Homo sapiens: one gene and its partners. The protein of the gene in region 1 interacts with the protein of each later gene in a biochemical or structural test. Each region holds a gene or a part of one and is shown on either strand. Other genes may lie near its edges.

Evidence for each region. The genes of interacting proteins can lie anywhere in the genome.
Region 2: the proteins of DYRK2 (region 1) and DCAF1 form a complex in vitro, tested with the Homo sapiens proteins (one study listed by BioGRID).
Region 3: of the proteins of DYRK2 (region 1) and NR1I2, one has a biochemical effect on the other in vitro, tested with the Homo sapiens proteins (one study listed by BioGRID).

Annotation. Positions count from the first base shown.
Region 1 is NC_000012.12:67,643,880-67,651,750, reverse strand, and holds the start of DYRK2 (dual specificity tyrosine-phosphorylation-regulated kinase 2), read right to left. Parts: upstream 3,007-7,871; 5' UTR 2,618-3,006; coding exon 2,569-2,617; intron 1,955-2,568; coding exon 1,806-1,954; exon of another isoform or gene 957-1,805; intron 1-956. UniProt on the Homo sapiens protein: Serine/threonine-protein kinase involved in the regulation of the mitotic cell cycle, cell proliferation, apoptosis, organization of the cytoskeleton and neurite outgrowth. Functions in part via its role in ubiquitin-dependent proteasomal protein degradation.
Region 2 is NC_000003.12:51,420,016-51,427,037, reverse strand, and holds part of DCAF1 (DDB1- and CUL4-associated factor 1), read left to right. Parts: intron 1-1,029; exon of another isoform or gene 1,030-1,128; intron 1,129-4,606; coding exon 4,607-4,731; intron 4,732-6,040; coding exon 6,041-7,022. UniProt on the Homo sapiens protein: Acts both as a substrate recognition component of E3 ubiquitin-protein ligase complexes and as an atypical serine/threonine-protein kinase, playing key roles in various processes such as cell cycle, telomerase regulation and histone modification.
Region 3 is NC_000003.12:119,777,519-119,785,100, forward strand, and holds the start of NR1I2 (nuclear receptor subfamily 1 group I member 2), read left to right. Parts: upstream 1-4,582; 5' UTR 4,583-4,782; intron 4,783-5,191; exon of another isoform or gene 5,192-5,239; coding exon of another isoform or gene 5,240-5,334; intron 5,335-7,582. UniProt on the Homo sapiens protein: Nuclear receptor that binds and is activated by variety of endogenous and xenobiotic compounds.

The DNA of each region.
Region 1 (7,871 bases):
TGTGGTCCTTGTAACCTTTCCTGTACTATGAAATCTGCTATGTTATAGAAATAAAATCAAAACTAAACCACCATCGAAACCCAAATTCACACCTTCAAAGTCAAGCATCTAATAATTAACAGCATACCGAAGTTTACACACACGTTAAAAACAAGTAAATCTGGCATATGCCACAGCAAAATACAGGCCTCCATTATGAGGAGTACTGAGAAGCACATTCGCATCCTTCCTTTTCTGGTGCACCACAGGCTCTCCCTCCAGTGGAGACTTGTCGTTTCATCTACTTTCATTACATGTATTTCAATTGCAAAGAGGCTCTGATCAAGCAAAGCCCATCCTTACAAAATTGGAATCCACATGCAAACCAAATAGTTCTTTTTCCAGCTCACACCATGTCATGTGATTACATCAACACATAGCAAAAAACTGGGTATTATATTTTCCAAATTGTCAGATGATCCCAAACAAAAAAATCCAAACCCCTAAAATCAATGGCAGTCCCTTAAATATCACTGTGACAAGAACACTTAACAGTAATATACAGAATCATCCATCCTACTATACCATCCACAGTCCAACACAGGTTAGTTAACCTCTGTGCAATGAATTCCCAGCCCCTGGGACCAGATGTGTCAGGATAGAGAGACAGACAGAGGGAGGGGGAAGATAGTAACAGCAACAAAACATTTTCCTACGAAACTTGCACACATCTCTCCAAGTCTAACAGGTGCAACTACAGTCTAGACATCCCCTCACAGTTCTCTGACAAACAAGTTTCCCCATAACATATGTCCCCAGAGCTACTCCCCTGTAGACCGGAGATGGCCTTTTCTTCAAGAACTCAACTTTCACTTAGCAAATAAAACCAATCCCTAGCAAGCCTCCCTCACACAGAACCATCTTAGGCTGTTCCTGTGGAAAATCCAATTGGGAAAAAAAGACCTCCAAACCATCACCTCCTCCAAGTGCAGACCTCCTCCAGGCTGGCCATCACCATCCAAGGGTGATCCCTGGGAGCTGAGAAAAGGTACATGCTTTAGTCGAATCCAGCTTGCCAGTCTCCGCAGCCACCAGCAACCAGTCCCACGCTGGCCTCTCCCCTCCCAGAGACCACAGCACCTGTTAGGTGCTTTTTCTTTCCCACCTCCAAAGCAACGCTTGCCCTTTCCTTTTGAATAATGTCCAACTGCAGAATCCTACAGGGGTGGCTTGTTTTGACTGCTGCGGCGGCCCTTATTTTTGTTAATGTTGATTACAATTTCTGCTGTGCTCAAACCTGTAGCACTCATAAAACATGCTTACACACGCGGGGGACAATTGGCGATGCTCCCTGCTGGCTGGAGCCAGGCCTGGGAGGCTCTTTGGGGGATCGATTTTCCGGGCAGGCCGGTCTGGCTGTCCCCTAACACGTATCTGTTTCTATAAATACCCACTACCCACGGGGAGGTGGGGGAAGGACAGAGATGTTTACCGGGTCAGGGAAGGGAACTCTGGGATGCAAGGACGAAAAATGAGGAAAGAAGGAAAGCAGCAAGGAGGAAGTTCCTAGGAAGAGGAGGTCATGGGTGGGCGAGCTCTGGAGGGGAAGTAAGGGGCCCACGCCACGAATCTTCCTTTGTGGCTGCAGCTTTGGGCTCGCCCAACTTAACCAGGGCGGCGTCGACGAGAGACCATCGGCCCGAGGCGTGGGGCTGCTTGTATCTCGACCCCTCTTCTCCCGGCGTCAGACCCCTCCAAGTCCGGGTGCTTCGGCCTGGGGCCCCTCCCGCCCCCACCGCCCGGGCCGCCCGCGGGCTGGGTCTCACCGTGTGGGCTGCGGCGGCAGCGTTGCTGGCCCGGAGAGGCGGCAGGGCGATGGGGGAGGGCGGGCCAGTCCCCACTCCGCTCCGGGTGGCCCCTGCACCGAGCCCCGGGGAAGCCTGAAGCTGACGAACGGCGCTGTCCCCACCTCGGCCTGGAAGCCACGTGCGGGAGGAGACAAAAGAGGGTCAGGGGGGAGAAAGTCACCCAGACCCCCCCTCCAACCCCGCTGGGCAGCGACAACCCTCTTCCAAAGAAAGACGGAGGAAGAGACCGGGGCAGTAAAAACGGGCGTTCGGGTCACGGCTCCCCAGCGCACACCCACGGGCGGGGCGCGGGCAGCTGCAAAGTTAAGTGGGGCCCTGGCGCGCGAGTTCGCGACCCGGCGGGGGAGCCGGGCCGCGCCGGGGCTAGGCGGCCCACGTTGCAGACGGCCAGCAGCCGGGAGGTGGGTTTGGACAGCTGAGCAGGGAGCCACGGCCACGCCAAGCCCCGGGCAGCGCAGGGCGGGGCGGCAGGCCTGGACGGTCCCCGCCCGGGCCCCCGGCAGGCAGAAGCCTCTTCGGGCCGAGGGCTCCCCGCGGAGGGGCCTTCGGGGCCGCGCACAACCCTGCATGGAGCCCGGGGCGCGTCGTCCGCCCGGGGGCTCCCCCGCGCCGCGCCGCCGACTTTGTTCGAGGTCCCGCAGGCAGCGGCCGCCCGCGCCACAGGGGCTGCCCAGGGCCGGCGGGGGTCCGGGGATGCGGCGCGGCGGCACGGCCTCCTTACCGGTCGGGTAGGCGGCGGGAGCGGCGGCCGAAGGTTTCCTGGTTAACATGGCCGCTGGAGAGGAAAATGCATTTCAGGGCTGCCGTCGCCGCCGCCGGTCCTGCTGCTACTTCTGGCGGCCGCCGCCGCCGCCTCCCGGCCGCCCCTCGCGCGGGTCCCCGGCGCCTCGTCGCCGCCTCGCGTCTGCTACAGCCAGACACACACAGTCCACTGCATCCCCTCGGCCGGGGCCCGCCGCCGCGAGCCCCCCGCTCTCCTCCTCGCCGCCGTCCTCCTCTTCCTCGGGCGGCTGCAGCACCCTCCGGCCCGTGCACATGCCTCGCCCTCCCCTGCGCGCCGCGGGCCTCCCCGTCTCCCTCACATAGGGGCGCGGGGAGCTGGAAGCGCTGCGAGGACCGAAGACCGCCTGGCTCGGGAGCCTCTCCCGGGCCCGCGCGCGCGCGCCCCCGCGCACTCACACACAGGCGCCGGCGCGCGGCCCCGCCCCCGCCGCCCTCCGCCGCCCTCCTCCGCCGCCGCAGGCCCCGCCCCCGGCTCCCCCGGCCGCGGCCACGCACACCCCACCCCCACCCAACCTCCCGCCCGGCTCCTCTCAGTCCCCCGGTTTGCGCGCAGCCGCCCCTCCGCTCCCCGGAAAACTCGGCGGCCTCCGCTCGCCCTCCTCCGCCCCCTCCGGCCATCTGCACTGCTTCCCTCGGCTCCACTCCGGCGACCTTTTCCCCTCCCCGGCCCCGCGGCGCCCCTTCTCTGCCCTACAGCTCAACCTACCGCTGCTGCCCTCCGGCCGAAAGCGCCGCAGAGACCCCTCCCCTGCCATGCGCACCCCTAAACATAAATGCATTTTCAGCTCTTCGAACTGAATGGCTGCTCACAGACAGTACTGCTTCCCCGTCCCCCCATTCTTGGTCCCAGCGACTTAGCCACTCCCCTCTCCCCAATTCATCATGTAGATAACTTAGTTGTGCGAGGGTCACCTCGGAGAGGCAAGTCCCGGGAGGGGCGGCCGCTGAGCTCGTTGACCCTGAGCAGGGGCGAAAGAGGGGGCTGCCCTCCCACCTCCACCACACACCCTCCCCGGTTTACTGACACCAAGTGACCGCTCGCCAGTCGCTAGGACAAGGGGAGGCAGAGAGGCGCGTGTGGACGGCAGCTGGGGAAGCAGTTGGCTGTGGGTTGCTAGGCAAAAATAAACATCAGAGACATCTCCTATTTCCTTACAACTCCGAGCCTTTCCCCTGCGCGGCCACTGGGAGAGACACACCTTCCTTTCAGCTCTGCGGTGAGGGAGCGACACCTCGAATTCCTCTCACCCCACCCGACACATCTCTTTCCCCCTTCCCTTCCAAGACACGTGGAGAATTTCCCTGCCTTTTTTATTCGCCATATACAACCTCTCTTTTCCTTGAAGACCAAAAAAAAATTGCTTTCCCGTCTCACATCCGCGCCTCGTCGTGCGTGGCACACAGTGCGCCTCTGTTCAAAGGTCACAGGTTTTGCCACTTCAACTGTGAGAGGAGGTGGGGTGGGAAAGCCCGACAAATCCCGGATGACGGGGCAGAGTTATGCCATGCACTTCCTTCTCGAGAGGTGCCTAGTTTCTGAAGTTCTCTTGGGGCCAGGGGTCCATTATGCTCTGCCCCGCCCGAGTATCTCTGGCTCCTGGCTGGACCTACTGTGCAGGCCCGAACTAGTGCAGACTCCAGTCGGAAGGGAGCCACCTCCTGCGGAGTTTCATCCACTCTACTGTTTGCAAATTGTCATAGCAACCTCCTACAGAGCGCATCCGCAGCTTTATACAAACGCCAAAAACTGTTTCAAGGTACAGTGTGACCCTCTCAGAGTCTCTGGGACTCCTAAAGAGGCCTCCAAGTTAGGGTCACTGGGAGAGGGAACCTGTGACAAAAAGAATTTTCCCTAGTATTACGTCCCTCCAAACAAAACAAAACAAAACAAAACAAAACAAAACACCCTTTCGGGGCCTTCTCCTAATAAAGTAGACCCACAGTAAAATAATCCAATAATATGCCTTTAGAGGAATCATGACCTGAACTGACCCTAGCAAGAAATATCCCCCTATGCTTGTCACTGGCGACCATCACATTTAAATCCACATGCGGAAGCATATTTAGTGTTTAGAATCGACTAAAAGAAAAGGGCTACTAAGTAGCAGAGATGACACTAGAACCGGTTTTCTGACTCCCAGTCTGATTTCACTATGACTTCCATCACACTACTTTCCTTACACTTTCAAGAAAGCTCACACCTCTTTTTTCTCCTTTCAAAACAATTATTTTCATACCATTTTCCTTTTTAAAATGAGTACTCCATACAACTGATGTTCAAATAAAAAAATGAAACAAAAAAATCAATTTTAATATAATATGACACCCCTTTTTGCTTAAGTTATTCGTACAATACTTCAGTAGAAGCTAAATATGCCACTGTTTTCTCATGAATAAAATAAATGCTAGTTACTGGAAGCCATAGTTTACGATTTCCAAATTAGTAATATTAATTTACTCATTTAACATGAGGAAAAGGAGCACTGATTCTTTTTTTTTTTTTTTTTTGACAAAGGATCACAATCATTAACTTTAAGAAAGAAAAAGACAATAGGGAACTTTTTGTAGTATATTGTTTTATATCATGACAAATATAATTTCAATTTTGTATATTTTTTGTGGCTTAACATAAGGAAATATTGCAGTTGACCTACCCCATAGCTATTTTGATTATAAATGGTACATCTTTGAAAATTATATTAATTTTTACTGACCTCTAAGTGACTATTAACCATTGCTTAGATTTTCCTCATTCTGTTAAATATTCTATTAAATATTGACATCTCCCTGAGTGAATGTTAAATAGAAAAGCTGTACAAACACACTCCTGGGGCTTTGGGGAGAGTGAAGTGGGTAAATTTGGGGAGTTATTTCCCTCAAATTTTATTATCATAATGCATCATTATCAATTATCTCATATAATTACACATATTTTGATCTCTTTATAAAACACTTTCACAAATATTACCATGTTTAATCTTCATAACTCCACCAGAGCAGATTTCATTTTAAATAGGAACCTCCTTAAAAGCTTCATTCAGTTAGCAAGAGACTGCTCTTTGGTTTTCACCCATTGTAAAAACTCTGTGTGTTCTATATGTTTAAAATCCAGATTCAGATAACAAGGAGGTAGGCAGGATCTAGCAGGAGTAGAGAGAAACAGGAGAACTCAGAATAGAGCCTTGAGGAAGAAAGTTGATTTTTCACTGGGCAAAGTACTGATCACAAGGAAAATTGGAAATGAACATAAAAATTGCTGGTTTCAAAACACATTTACTCATTTAATCCCCTTATCCCAGAAACATTTACAAAGAATTTAGTATGTGCTAGGCCTAGGAGACATGATGAATCATCAAATGCAGTAGACTACACTTCAGTCTGGCAATCTATTAGGAACTCATTCTTGTTTTGTTTTGTTTTTGTTTTTTTGAGACAGAATTTCACTGTGTTGCCCAGGCTGGAGTGCAGTGGCACAATCTCAGCTCACTGCAACCTCTGCCTCATGGTTCAAGTGGTTCTCCTGCCTTAGCCTCCCGAGTAGCTGGGACTACAGGTGCCCACCAACACGCCTAGCTAATTTTTGTATTTTTTGTAGAGACGGGGTTTCACCACGTTGGCCAGGCTGGTCTCCAACTCCTGACCTCAAGTGATCCACCTGCCTCGGCCTCCCAAAGTGCTAGGATTACAGGCGTGAGTCACCACACCTGTCCAGGAACTCATTCTTTTATTCAATTAAGCAATAAGCTATAAGAACCTAACATATTTTTGGCACCGTTGGTGGAATGTTATGGTCTGAATGTTTGTGTACGCCCCAAATTTATATTTTGAAATCCTAACCCACAATGTGATGGTATTAGGAGGTGGTTAGATCAAGTGACTGCAGAGAGTTAGTAGCCTTTTCCACCATGTGGGGACACAGAGAGCAGGCACCATTTATGAACAAGGAAACAGGCCCTCACCAGACACTAAATCTGCCAGCACCACGCTCTTGAACTTTCCAGCCTCCAGAACTGTGAGAAACAAATTTCTGTTTGTTACAGTTACCCAGGTTATAGTATTTTGTTATAGTAGCCCTAACAAACTAAGACATGGGGCTACACAGTTAAATAATCCCTGGCTCTGGTCACTGCTACTAGGAAGTTCACAGTTCCGTACGGGAGACCAGACATTTAATGAAGTGAAAAGAGTGGTAAAGAAGGCATATAGGAGTCACAGAGATAGCACACAGGAGAGAGGGACGAGCTCCACTTAAGTGGTGTCTGGCAGGGGCTGTGCTTCAGTGGAGGTTTTAAAGACGCGTGGGAATTTGCAAGTTAGGCGAGACAGGTTAGGACATTCCAAGTGGAAGAAATAGGATGTTCAGAAGCGTCAAGTTGTAAGAAAGCATGATGTGTCCCAGGGGAAGGGGAAGCAATTCAGAATAGAGGAAACTTGGGGTGCCAGGCAGAGGGGTGGTACTGCTATCTTCCTAGGGTTAGGTTTATGGATAGATCAAGTCAGGTTAAGAATTATCCTAAACTTGGCCAGGCATGATGGCTCATGCCTATAATCCCAGTGCTTTGAGAAGCTGAGGAGGGAGGACCAGGAGTTTGAGACTAGCCTGGACAACATAGCAAGACCCTGTCTCCACAAAAAAAGTAAAAATAAAGAAATATTCTAAACTTTATCTGCTATGGATATGTGAAAACAAGGTGCAGGGGCTTTTGGAGCAGCTAGATAAATTATTAAGGAACTGACTCATTTTGGTGAAGGTGGATCTAACTCCCTTTAAGAGAACACCAGGCCAGGTGCAGTGGCTCATGCCTGTAATCCCAGCACTTTGGGAGGCCGAGGCGGGTGGATCACTTGAGGTCAAGAGTTTGAGACCAGCCTGGCCAACATAGTGAAACCCTGTTGCTACTAAAAATTCAAAAAAATTAGCCAGGCATGGTGGCGGGCACCTGTAATCCCAGCTACTGGGAGGCTGAGGCAGGAGTATTGCTTGAACCCAGGAGGTGGAGGCTGCAGTGAGCCAAGATTGTGCCACTGCACTCCAGCCTGGGAGACAGAGTAAGACTCCATCTAAAAAAAAAAAAAAAAAAAAAAAAGAGAACACCACTAACTGGCGGTACCTTCTATGTCTCCATCACCAAGGTCCAGAACTACCTAGAAAAGAATATGAAGACCTTATGGCCTAAAGTCTACTAATGTAAACTTTTCAGAAGTAGGAGGCATGGCCGTCATAACCAAATGGCTACAAGG
Region 2 (7,022 bases), on another chromosome or scaffold:
AGTGTCTTGCTACTACTTGACAACCATATATAATGTTTATATTACGTTCATATAAAATTGTCCTTTTACTCTTGGAATTCGACATACTGTTAGGATTTTCACAAATTAGTTTAAGGCAGAGCAGGACAAGGCCCAGAAAAGGGTGGCTGATGTAATCAGGAAACTGGGTAGGTTCTATTTGAAGATGATATAAAAAGAAATAAAACTGTTTTGAAAAAGATGGGGTCTTAAGAGAAGATAGTAAAAAAGTTTATAAACAGAGTGCTTGACCTTCTTTTCCTATTCACTCACTGCCATAAAGATAAGAGAGGGGCTTATTTAGGGGAATATAGTAAGTTTGTTAAATCCCAGCATTTAAATATTGTAAGGTACTCTTGGAGCAGGTGTTATTAAACTTTTTGGTTTCAAGATACCTTTACCATATTAATAATTACTGAGAACTCTAAAAGGCTTTTGTTTTTGTGTTATATCTATCAGTATTAGAAATTAAAACAGAAAATGTAAAAATATTTATGCATTAAAAATGTGGGCCAGGCACAGTGGCTCATGCTTGTAATTTCAGCACTTTGGAAGGACGAGGTGGGCAGATCACTTGAGGTCCGAAGTTTGAGACCAGCCTGGGCAATGTGGTGAAACCCCATCTCTACTAAAAATAGAAAAATTAGCCGGGGGTGGTGTTACGCACCTGTAGTCCCAGCTACCTGGGAGGCTGAGGCAGGAGAATCAATTGAACCCAGGAGGCAGAGGTTGCAGGGAGCTGAGATCACGCCACTGTACTCCAGCCTAGGCGACAGAGCAAGTCTTCATCTCAAAAAAAAAAAAGTGAACCCATTGCATGTTTGCGTTATTCATGAAAAATTTCCAAAATAAAACCAGATAATTTTAGCAAGTTTGAAAAAATGTCTGGCCTAATATCTCATATCTGCTTCTGTATTCAGTTTTTGTGACATCACATCATCTCTGGAAGACTCTCTTACTATGCAATGAGAGAATGAGAGTGCAAAAGGAAAGTGACATCTTATTATTACGAAAATAGCTTTGACTTCACAGGACCTTCTGAAAGGGTCTCAGACTTCTAGAGGTCTCCAGACTATACTTTGAGAAGTGCTGTTTTAGAATATTGGAAAAGTAGGTTATTATATTTATTTGGAGAATTGTTTAAAAAGTGATGATAGGCCAGGCGTGGTGGTTCATACCTGTAATCCCAGCACTTAGGGAGGCTGAGACGGGCAGATTGCTTGAGATCAGGAGTTCGAGACCAGCCTGGGCAATATGGTGAAACCCCATCTCTACCAAAAATAAAAAAAATTAGCCTGGTGTGTTGCCGCATGTCTGTAGTCCCAGCTACTAGGGACGCTGAGGTGGGAGGATTGCTTGAGCCCAGGAGGTAGAGAATGCAGTGAGCCAAGATGGTGCCACTGCACTTTAGCCGGGGCAACAGAGCAAGACTCTGTCTCCAAAAAAAAAAAAAAAAAAAAGATGACAGCTTACAAGATAACTAGAAAGGGTATAAATACATTTTTTAAACTGGTACATCTGTGTTTATTTATTTTTTTGTTGGTTTTGGAGACAGAGTCTTGCTCTGTTGCCCAGGCTGGAGTGCAGTGGCAGGATCTTGGCTCACTCCAACCTCCACCTCCCAGGTTCAAGTGATTCTTGTGCCTCAGTCTCTGAAGTAGCTGGGATTACAGACACGCACCACCAAGCCCAGCTACTTTTTGCATTTTTTAGTAGAGACGGGGTTTTGCCATGTTGGCCAGGCTGGTCTCGAACTCCTGGCCTTGAGTGATCTGCCTGCCTCAGCCTCTCAATGTGCTGGGATTATAGGCATGAAACACGGTCCGGCCTGTATTTGGATTATTGAAAAAATATGTCCTTGATTTTAAAAATTTATTTTTAGAAATAAAATTAATAAATGTTTCTGCTTTAGAATATGCAGAATCTTTTAAAGAGAAAAGAAAATTACTCTTAGCATTCACTACGTAATATTTGCAAATACACATAATTAATATTATACTTTTAATCAAATTCATCTTTTTTATGAATATTTTCAAAACATAGAAAGGCACAGAGAATAGTTTAACAACTGCTCCATCATTAACCAGGATTGGCATGTTGTTGTATTTGCTTTTGGCTCAGTTCTTTTTCTGCCTCCCCAGAGTCACCCATCTTCTGAATTTGAACCATATTCTCCCCACTCATGTTTTTATACTATATATATCTGTGTGTTCATAAATAATAACGTCATACTGCTTTGCATGTTTTTAAATTATAAATATTTTCCTAAGTTCATCTTTCACAGCTTGCTTTTTTTACCCTTATATTCTTGAGATTTATATATGTTGATATTTATTTAAAATGCTGTATTTCTATACTGCAGTTTATTCTGCCATTGATGGCTAATTTAGTGTTTTTGTTTGGTTTTTTTGGCTATTAAATAAATGGTATCATGAACCTCCTTTTGGAGGCTCTCTTGAGGATATGATGTAGAGCATCTGGTTTGTAGGGTGTCTGTGTTCTTACCTTTATTGGATATTGCCAAATTGCTTCTAAAAATGTTCATACCATTGTCATCCCCCACCAGCAATATATAGGAGCTTTCATTTCTCTACTTTTTTTTTTCTTTTTTTTTTTTGAGGCAGAGTCTTGCTCTGTCACCCAGGCTGGAGTGCAGTAGTGGTGCAATCTCGGCTTATGGCAACCTCCGCCTCCTGGGTTCAAGCGATTCTCCTGCTTCAGCCTCCTGAGTAACTGGGACTACAGGCGCCCACTACCATGCCCAGCTAATTTTTGTATTTTTAGTAGAGACAGGGTTTCACCATATTGGCCAGGCTGGTCTTGAACTCCTGACCTCGTGATCCACCTGCCCTGGTCTCCCACCACACCCAGCCGGTTTTTTCTTTTTTAACTACAAAAGACATCCAACATTTCTCTACTTTCTTGCCAGTACTTGGTATTGTCAGATTTTTAATTTTATATCTTACATTTTTTATTTTTATATCATTAATGTTGTATTTTGAACCCTTTCCCTCATTCTTTAGGGTTCTTTGAAAATGATTGTCAATGGCTGTAGTTTATGAGTGTACTATACTCTAACACATATGGTGCTCTTGTCTATGTGGGTTTTCTCATTCTTTTGCTATTTTAATGTGGCTAATGAACATCTTAATACATAAATTCTTCTGATTATTTCTTTCTTTCTTTTTTTTTTTTTTTTTGAAACGGAGTCTCACTGTGTTGACCAAGCTCGAGTGCAGTGGTGTGATCTTGGCTCACTGTAGCCTCTGCCTCCCAGATTCAAGCAGTTCTTCCTGCCTCAGCCTCCTGAGTAGCTGGGATTACAGATGCCCACCACCATGCCTGGCTGGTTTTTGTATTTTTTAATAGAGATGGGGTTTCAACATGTTGGCCAGGCTGGTCTTGAATTCCTGACCTCAGGTCATCCGCCTGCCTCAGCCTCCCAAATTGTTGTGATTACCGGCGTGAGCCACTGCACCCGGCCTGAGTCTTTTTTCTTTTCTTTTTTTTTTTTTGTGGAGACAGAGTCTCTCTCTGTGGCCCGAGCTGGAGTGCGGTGGCTCAATCTCAGCTCACTGCAACTTCCGCCTCCTGGGTTCAAGCAATTCTCCTGCCTCAACCTCCCGAGTAGCTGGGACTACAGGCGCCCGCCACTAAGCCTGGGTAATTTATTTTTTTAATTTTTATTTTAGTAGTGACAGGGTTTGGCCATGTTGCCCAGGCTAGTCTTGAACTCCTGAGCTCAGGCAATCTGCCCGCCTCAGCCTCCCAAAGCACTAGGATTACAGGCATGAGACCACGCCTGGCCCTGGCCTGATTATTTCTTTAGGACAGATTGTCAGAGGTGAAATTTCTAGGACAAGGTTTATGAACATTTTAAGAATCTTGTTTCATATTTCCAGATTACTTTCTTTTTCTTCTTTTTTTTCATTTTTCTTTTTTTTTGTTTTTCGAGACAGGCTCTCACTCTGTTGCCCAGACTGGAGTGCAGTGGTGTAATCACGGCTCACCACAGCCTCAACTTCCTGGGCATAGGTGATCCTCCCACCTCAGCCTCCTGAGAAGCTGGGACTACAGGCACGTGCTACCACACCCGGCTAATATCTTATATTTTTTTTTTATAGAAAAAGATAAAACCATGTTGCCCATTCTGGTCTCAAACTCCTGGGTTCAAGTGATCCTCCCACCTTGGCCTCCTAAAGTGTTGGGATTATAGGCTTGAGCCACCGTGCCTGGCCTCCAGATTACTTTCTGGAAAGAGTGTACTAATTTCTACTCTCACCAAAACTTTGAGAGTACGTGTCTCTATATGTTTTCACTAGGATGAAAGGATTCAGGATTATTCTATGTTTTTTATCATAGAAGTTTAATAGGTAAAAATTCCATTGCTATATTTTTTGGAAGTAATGTCATGGTGACTATAAAATCCTCTCTTGATGCGACAGCTTGAGATAGAGCCACACTGGTAGTGCTTCTGATTTATTGTCTCTGTGTGTATGTGTCTATCTGTCTGTGTGTCTCTCTCTCTGTCTCTCTTGATTCTTGTGGCTATACTCTAATTTCCCTTTGACTAATTCTTCCTGTCCAGGAATGACACTGTGCGCTTTGCTTTGGATGTCCTGGCTATTCTTACTGTGGTGCCAAAAATCCAGCTCCAGTTGGCAGAATCAGTGGACGTGTTGGATGAGGCTGGATCTACAGTCTCTACTGTAGGTAGGTTGTACTTTGCCATTTTTGTTGTTTCTTGGTCTGGATTTGTTTTTTCTTTGCCACTCTGGTCTTGGTTACTTACCTGACCTAATTTTGGATTTTAGAACAGAAGTAGTAGAGGGGGGCTCCTTGTCTGTCCTTTATAAGGAGTACCATTCAGCAGATCAGGAACTAATTTAAAAAAAAAAACCAAAAAACAAAAATACAAATGTAGGACCAGATAGTTTGATGTAAGGGAGTCATGCTAGTAAACTCAGGTTTTCTGAGTGGTACTGGCATTTCTGCTATAATGGTATATTATAGCTTTCCTGAAAAGCTCACACTCTGAAGAGTCTTGCACTAAAAATAAAGTTCATGGGAAAAATGGGTTGAGGCAGATAGTAAAAAACTTAAGCATCACAGCTTTCCAGGAGTTAAAGGGAAAAAAAAACAACAAAGTAAGCAGTTTTGTAACCTGAGTCAGTAATTGGCAGGTAGCTCAAAATGGGTAGAAACCGTCATACATATATAAAAAAAGGAAAATATACTTTGATAATATACTTTATTAAGAGCAAGGCTGATCAGGGCACTGCTGGGGTGAGCATGGGAAGTCGTGTGATGGGACAAGATGCAGGATAGGACTAAGACACAGGCACTTGGTTTTTAATTTTCTTAAAATAGAGTGGAAAGGGTTCTGCTTCCACAGTAGCAGCCCAACCGAGGGCTTTCTCCGTTCCTAAGGTTTTAGTGTATTAAAATTAATAAACCAGAAAAGGTCGAGCACAGTGGCTCACACCTGTAATCCCAAAACTTTGGGAGGCCGAGGCGGGTGGATCACCTGAGGTCAGGAGTTCCAGACCAGACTGGCCAACATGGTGAAACCCCACCTCTACTAAAAATACAAAAATTAGCTGGGCGTGGTGACAGGCGCCTGTAATCCCAGCTCTTTGCAGGGATGAGGCAGGAGAATCACTTGAACTCGGGAGGCGGAGGTTGCAGTGAGCCAAGATCACGCCACTGCACTCCAGCTTGGGCGACAGAGCGAGACTCTGCCTCAAAAAAATAATAAAACCAGAAAAAATTGCACATGAACCTTGATTACTTTTCCATAATTATGACATGATTTCCCTATTTAATAACTGCATATGAGATACCATAAAAATACATTGTAGTAGAACTGTCTGCACTTTATACAAACCCTTGCAGTTTTTACAAAAGTAATATAGTTTTTTAAAGTAAAAGTGAGTAGAACACCAAATTTTGACTCTGGAACAACTATTGAAGTTGGCCATTAGTTTTATGGTGAATAATACATAATTTTTTTTCCCATTAGGTATCAGCATTATTTTGGGAGTGGCTGAGGGTGAGTTCTTCATCCATGATGCTGAAATTCAGAAGTCAGCACTTCAGATTATCATCAATTGTGTGTGTGGCCCAGATAACCGAATATCCAGTATTGGTAAATTTATCTCTGGTACTCCTCGGAGAAAGCTGCCTCAGAACCCTAAAAGCAGTGAGCACACCCTGGCCAAGATGTGGAATGTGGTTCAGTCCAACAACGGCATCAAGGTGCTCCTGTCCTTACTGTCCATTAAGATGCCCATCACAGATGCAGACCAAATCCGGGCCCTGGCCTGCAAAGCCCTAGTGGGCCTGTCTCGCAGTAGCACTGTCCGGCAGATCATCAGTAAACTGCCCCTTTTCAGCAGCTGCCAGATCCAGCAGCTGATGAAGGAGCCTGTGCTGCAGGACAAGCGCAGTGACCATGTCAAGTTCTGCAAGTATGCTGCTGAACTCATTGAACGGGTGTCAGGAAAACCACTTCTCATTGGCACTGATGTTTCCCTAGCACGACTGCAGAAAGCAGATGTTGTTGCCCAGTCAAGGATCTCCTTCCCTGAGAAAGAGCTGCTTTTGTTGATACGAAACCATCTTATTTCTAAAGGGCTTGGAGAAACAGCAACCGTGCTGACAAAAGAGGCTGACCTGCCCATGACTGCTGCCTCCCATTCTTCTGCCTTTACCCCAGTCACTGCTGCTGCTTCTCCTGTCTCTCTACCCCGAACCCCTCGTATCGCTAATGGCATTGCAACTCGTCTGGGCAGCCATGCTGCTGTGGGTGCCTCTGCGCCTTCTGCCCCTACTGCTCATCCTCAGCCACGGCCCCCCCAGGGTCCGCTAGCTCTGCCCGGCCCATCTTATGCAGGCAACTCCCCTTTGATTGGTAGAATCAGTTTTATCAGAGAGAGGCCATCACCCTGCAATGGCAGGAAAATCAGAGTGTTGCGGCAGAAGTCGGACCATGGTGCCTACAG
Region 3 (7,582 bases), on another chromosome or scaffold:
TGATTCCAATTACATAAAATACCTAGAATATGCAAATTCATGGAGATAGAAAGTAGATTAGAGGTTACCAGGGACTCAAGGAAGATAACAATGGGGAGTTGCTTAATGGATGGAGTTTCTATTTGGGATGATGAAGGGGTTCTGGATATGAATAGTGGTGATGGTTGCAAAACATTATAATTAATGCTACTGAATTGTACACTTAAAATGATTTAAATGGTTAATTTTATATTATATGTATTTTTTACCAGAATAAAAAATGTTGGCTGGGTGTGGTGGTTCATGCCTGTAATCCCAGCACTTTGAGAGGCCAAGGTGGGAAGATCGCTTGAATTCAGGAGTTCAAGACCAGCCTGGGCAACCTAGGGAAACCCGTCTCTACCAGAAAAAAATAGCTGGGCATGGTGACATGTGCCTGTAGGCCCAGCTACTCAGAAGGCTGAGGCAGGAGAATCGCTTCAGCCTGGAAGGTTGAGGCTGCAGTGAGCCATGATTGCCCCCACTGCACTCCAGCCTGGGCAACAGTACAAGATCCTATCTCAAAAAAAAAAAAAAAAAGTAAAGACTGATAAATTGTACCTTATAAAAATAAAATAAATACATAAAATGTGACTAGCAATTTTAAGACACTTAAATATTTGAATTAATTTATTGAATACCTGCTCTGGGAATTAGTGTTGTGTTTCCATTTACAGAGACAAAACAGGTCTAATTGATTGACTAAACAATAGATGTAAATGTGGTCAGTGTTTGGATGTCTATTCATAGAATAGGAACAATTTTTCTGAGAAATGATTTGACTCTCAGCTGTTTCCTGTATGACCTCTCAATTTACATTTTATTCAAGAGTTTCTAATATAATATTGTGGAGCAAAGAAACTTGACAGCAACAGCTGTTGAGAGAAGGTAACTGTCATATTAATATTTCTGGGAAGAGGTATTGCGGTGTTACCAGATTCCAGATTTGCACCTTTTCCCCTCAATCCCTTTATCCCTCTCAAACATTATAGTGATTTATGAAAATATATGTATAATTCCAAATAAGTTTTAGATAATTCCATATATACCAAATACCCAATTATCTCTTTGCTGTCAAAGGGTAATTTATCCTCATCATGACACTTGCCATCATTACAAGTTTAAAGCCTAAAAATGAAAAGAGGTTTCACACATTTAAGAGCTAACTCATTTAATAATAAATCAAAAGTAAGTATGAGTTTCATTTAGTAGTAGCATGAGCTAGCTGCAGGGAAGGTCCTCTCAAGGTGGTCCTTTTTCTTCTCTTCAATAAAGGCAGAACTCTATTAAAGCATATTAGTAAAAACCATATTTAAAAGAATTACTACACTGAACTGAGCAGCCACCAAATGCAATTGGTACCAGGTGATATAAGGGCTTCTCCTCTCAGGGGGCTTATAAGCAACTAAGGCAGGAAGTCACAGATACCATATTCTGCAGTGTAATTTACAAATGAGGTGAAAACAAAGTGTTCCAAAATTCTAAGAGAGACATTGGAATTCTGACCACAAGTGTAATTTATGGAGCCTCAGAGTAATTATAGGATCTGGAACAGCTGGTGCTCAAATTTAGTGGTCCTCCAGTTGCTGGAATCTGCGATTTCTGGGAAGTTAAACTTTGTGTCACTGCTTCTACTTGTGATAAAATGAAACCGCTTTCAAAGAGAAGATTCCTATTCCTAGCCTTTTTGGGTAACTTCTACTACCTCCACTTAAGGATGAAAAGGGAGAAGTTTCCTCCAAGACTGCCTCATGGGGATCAGAGTGTCACCTCCATGCTCCTGCCCTAAGTGCCCCTGAGCACACCCCAGAGGGAGGCTAAGAGATTTTTGAGAAAGACCATGTGACTGGCTGATAAACACCTATTTTCCTCAGATTCCACCTGAATTTATATCATCAGTGCATCACTCTTTTATTTTGTTCTCTCTGTTCCTCTTTTTAAATATTAATATTCTCTGGAGAGGGGTAAAACATTAAATGAATTCACACTGAGGAAACTGGCCAGGTACAATGGCTTATGCCTGTAATTTCAGCAATTTGGGAGGCCAAGGCAGACAGATTGCTTGAGCCCCAGAGTTTGAGACCAGCTTGGGCAACATAATGAGACCTCGTCTCTACAAAAGAAAAACAAAAAAAAAAATTAGCCAAGCATGGTGGCACACACCTGTAGTCTCAGGTATTTGGGATGCTGAGGTGGGAGGATTGCTTTAGCCCAGGAGGTTGAGGCTGCAGTGAGCCATGACCATGCCACTGCACTCCAGCCTGGGTGACACAGCAAAACACTGTCTCAAAAAAAAAAAAGAAACTCTTCAGGCTGATCAGATCTGCTTTTCTCTGATGAGTTTCTTAGGAGCTCTACATTTCTGGTTGCTGCAATAGGCAAAGTATAGAATGGAGGTCAAGGCCTCAAATTTCTCTGACTTCCCAGCTGGGCTTGAGAGTGACTCTGGCCCTCAACTGAGGGCATTAGTAAGCTGTCCTTAAGAACGAGAGTGTATTTTCTGGCTGTATTCTTAACTCATTTCACTATAGAGCCATGTCTGATATTAACAGTGCAGTGCTAGACTAGAGAGGCCTGGCACTCCTACAGCCTTCTCCTGTCTTCTAGCTGGGACTTCACACCACAGACCCAAAGGAAAAGAGACCCAAAGATCCCTGCAGAAACCTGAGAATATTTCCTTTACCTCAGTGGTTTCATAATCTGTTCTTAGTTTCCTGTTTCTGCTGTAAATAATTCACTATATTTTTAAGAGAGAGAAGGTCAGGCCCTTGTGAGCCAGAAGGGATTTGAGAGATGATGAAAGCTACGTATGTTACCCATAACCTAAGGACTTCTGGCAAGGTGGCCTACCTGAGCTGGAGTCATGCCTTTTTTCCCTGGACTTGGAGATACCTGTCAGTGCAGAAAGGCCTACTTTTGATCTTGGAAATAAGTTTCCTGGGGTGAGTTCTTAACCCTTTCCAGCTTTCCCACCCTCTTTGGCTTTAGCCATGGCCTTCTGATCTGTGTTTCTCAGGGGACCTGCAGGCCCCAGATATAGCCCCATGCTGTCCTCCTACCCCAGAGCACACTGTTCAGGCTACTTCCACTGGTACTGAAATCCAGTATTTCACTTACTCTTTTTCTTTCCAATATCCTCATGACATTCAATATTTCACTTACTCTAGGTCCTCCCTGCCTAAGGCCCAAGTCAACTTTCTGTCCAGTGGGATTTGTAATCCAATACCTCCTAGCCCTAGCAGAATCCCATGTGGATAATCAGAAATGTGACTGGAAAAAGGACAGAGCTCTATGGCTGTGGGTCCCAGTCCCCACTGCTGGCAGTAAGTCCCCAGCAGTGAGCTGTGTAAGCACCTTACATTCTGCGCTTGGTTGAAAACAGCAAGGCAAGCATCCACTTGAGAAATGTCAACCCCTAGGAAATCCCAGCCTCAAGTCTTTCTCATCCCTTGGGAAGTGCAAATTGGATAGAGAAGAAACCAATTAAAAACAAAACAAACAAATCATACTTAGATATTCTGGCTTTTCTCACCAGGGCTGGATTAAAGCATGTACTTCAAAATAATAACAACTTAAGTCAATAAATAAATGTAAGGAAGTCCAAATGTTCACCTGAAGACAACTGTGGTCATTTTTTGGCAATCCCAGGTTCTCTTTTCTACCTGTTTGCTCAATCGTGGTCTCCCTCTCCCTCTCTTGTTGGGGCCCATGCCCCTGCTTTACTGTTGCCAGAGGCTTGTACTTGTTTGCCTTTTAGGTAGGAGCAGTTACTTCCACTCCCCTCACCTGCCATAAAGCATCTTTATAAACAAAGCAAGTAGAAGAAACACATCCTGGTATCCACCACATTCGGCTTTTGTTGATTCTGTTCACTTGGGAGCACCTGCTGCTAGGGAATAAGAAGGTTGAGGCTGAAGAGTGAGGACTCTTCAGCTCCCCTCTGGCAGGACCCGGGAGAGGAAAGAGCCCTCAGCTGGTCCATCCTCCCCACTCCTGGTCAGCCTTCTGTTCTGAGATCAAAGTGGTGGGGTCACATTCTCGAGAACTGTGCTCAGCCCCCTCATCTCACACCCTTTCCCTCTCCCTGTGTGCCTGCCCCCCTCTTACATAACCATGCTGGTGATTGGCACCGTCATAAATCAATACTTTGCTCACTTTCACATCAAGTAACACTATCCAGGGAGGTGGTTTCAACAAAGGAGGAAGTATAAGGAGATCTAGGTTCAAATTAATGTTGCCCCTAGTGGTAAAGGACAGAGACCCTCAGACTGATGAAATGCACTCAGAATTACTTAGACAAAGCGGATATTTGCCACTCTCTTCCCCTTTTCCTGTGTTTTTGTAGTGAAGAGACCTGAAAGAAAAAAGTAGGGAGAACATAATGAGAACAAATACGGTAATCTCTTCATTTGCTAGTTCAAGTGCTGGACTTGGGACTTAGGAGGGGCAATGGAGCCGCTTAGTGCCTACATCTGACTTGGACTGAAATATAGGTGAGAGACAAGATTGTCTCATATCCGGGGAAATCATAACCTATGACTAGGACGGGAAGAGGAAGCACTGCCTTTACTTCAGTGGGAATCTCGGCCTCAGCCTGCAAGCCAAGTGTTCACAGTGAGAAAAGCAAGAGAATAAGCTAATACTCCTGTCCTGAACAAGGCAGCGGCTCCTTGGTAAAGCTACTCCTTGATCGATCCTTTGCACCGGATTGTTCAAAGTGGACCCCAGGGGAGAAGTCGGAGCAAAGAACTTACCACCAAGCAGGTATGGTTTTTCTTTCTTTCTCTTTTGCTGGGGGCTGACCGCCCTTCAGCTCCAGCCAAAAGATGTGTGTGAACACAAATATACCTTCTGTTTGAGGTCAGCATCATAGTGGGTCGTGAATCATGTTGGCCTTGCTGCTGTCTCCTCATTTCTAGGGTGGAAAAAAAAAAGCATGAAAACAATCACTTAATGTTGAGCCCCATTACTGATGCTCTCTGGTCCTGCACTAGCCTCCTAGAAAAATCACCACAGGAGAAGCCTTAACTACTGCATGAGTTACCACAAGTCACACATACAACCAGCTCCCTGTTACAGGGCTGGAGTCCCTGGACCCAGGAAATACCACCTCCAAGGACTGTGGGAGCTGGGGACTATGGGAACTGGGATCAACTCAGTCCTGATTCCTTTTGGCCTGCTGGGTTAGTGCTGGCAGCCCCCTGAGGCCAAGGACAGCAGCATGACAGTCACCAGGACTCACCACTTCAAGGAGGGGTCCCTCAGAGCACCTGCCATACCCCTGCACAGTGCTGCGGCTGAGTTGGCTTCAAACCAGTGAGTTTTCTACCTCTACTATTGAAAGGGCACCTTGTCCCACAGAACCGAGTCTTGCCTGCATGTGGTCAGTGCCACCAGGTCCTTCTTCTCTCCACTTTACAGCCCAGCTCGGCTGAAGCTATGGCCAGAGGCACTGCTTTAAGGCCACTCCATATCTAGGACAGGTCAACAGACACCTCTGAGGCCACTGAGTCTTGACTCAATGAATCAGCTATAGCAGGCACTATTCCTCTCCCACATGGCCTCTAATGATATGGTCAGAGTTGAAAGGATGCTAAGGGAGGCCTCAGAGGCTTATTTAATCAGTTGGTTAATGGGAAAAAGTATTTTGTGGTACACAAATACGCTTTAAAAATATTTTAGTTATGTCATAAAAGTCTAAACCTGGGGTTGACAAACTATGGCTCACAGGCTAACTCTGGCCCACCAGCTGTTTTTATAAATGAAGCTTTATTGGAACACAGCCATGCCCATTCGTTATGTATTGTATATGGCTGTTTTTGCCCTACAACATCCTTTCAACTCTGGCCATATCATTAGAGGCCATGTGGGAGAGGAATAGTGCCTGCTATAGCTGATTCATTGAGTCAGCAAAATTGACCAATTGCGAAAGAGACAGTATGGCCCACAAAGCCTAAAATATTAACTATCTGGCCTTTAACAGAAAAAGTTTGCCAACTCCTGATCTAAAAGCTGTCAACTTGTTCCAAAATTATTATGGAATAAACCCAAGACAACCACAAAACTGACTAGACTAGGTTTTTTAGGTAATAACTTTTTAAATTATAAAGTAATACATGATTTCATGCTCCTTGAAAATGAGAAAGCAGTATAGATAAACCTAAATTCACCTTTGGCCATTCTGTCAATCCTAATCTCCAGTTTCCCCAAAAGTACTTAGTGTGATATATTTACTGCCAGACCATTGTGTCTGTGTGTGTGTTCATCTATGCATAGATGGACTATTAAACCTATCTGTTGCCATGTTGTTCTAATTCTGTTTTTCCACTCAATAGCAAGACTTGGAGACTTTCCATATCTGTATAGAGCTCTACTTCATTTATTTTAACTGCTACGTCATATTTCACAGTGTACACTTCTTTTATTTAGCCGTTTTCTTTTCGATAGATATTTAAGCTTTTCCAATTTTTCAGTCTTACCAATGAACCTCACTGTGTTTGTCTGCTTCTAGACATGTGCACGTATTGCACTAGAGGAACTACTAAGACGTTGAATTGCCACATCACAGGATATATGTGGTTCAATTTTTGGCTGCCAAACAGCCCTCCACAGTACCCGAACCGACTGTACTCCCACCAGCAGAGAAGGATAGTTACTGTTCCTCCACACTCCAAACAATGCTTGCTGTTTATTCAGTATTTTATTATTTTTTCCATTGAATTAGTGCAAATGACAACCCATTATTTCAATATTTTAATTTCCCTGATTATTAATGAAGTTGAGCATTCTTTTTATAGGACCCCTCTTGGCCATTGTATTTCTCTTCTTAAATTACCTATTCATATCCTTAGCTTATTTTATGTCGGATTTTTTTTCTTCTTTGTAGGAGTTTTTTATTTATTCTCAATGCAAATTATTTGATATGTGTGTAATATTCTCTCTAAGCTTTGTTTAAATCATACTTTTTAGCCAACAGAAATTTTTACTATTATTGTTGTTGTTATTTTGATGTAGTTGAATCTGTTAGTTTCCCTCTTTCTGGATTTTACTCTTTGAGGCTGATTTTTAAAAGATTTCTCAACTTCCAAAATTATGAAGCTACTTTGGTGCACCTTCCTGTAATACTTTTATTTAAAAAGTTAGTCTTTATTCACCTGGCACTTATTGCAATACATTATTTCAATACTATTTATTGAAAAGTCCATCTTTTTCCTATTTGTTTGAAATATCACCTCTATCATGTACTAAATTCCCACTTACACATGTCCATTTCTGTGTCCTTTTGTATTTATTTCCTATTCCTGAGCCAATTTCCACTATAATGTTTACCTTTTCTACTTGATTTTTTCCCCCAATAAATAGAAAATCTATTTTGTGTTTTGATATTTTGCCTAGTTACCTTATGGAATTCTCTTAATAGTTATAAAAGCTTATCAGTTGATTCCTTTGGAATTTCTAGTTAGACAAACATATCATCTATATATAGTAAGAGTTTTGCTCCTTCCTTTCCAATCTTTACAAACCTTAATTTTTTGTGTCTTATTGGTTTTTCTTTGCCATTCAG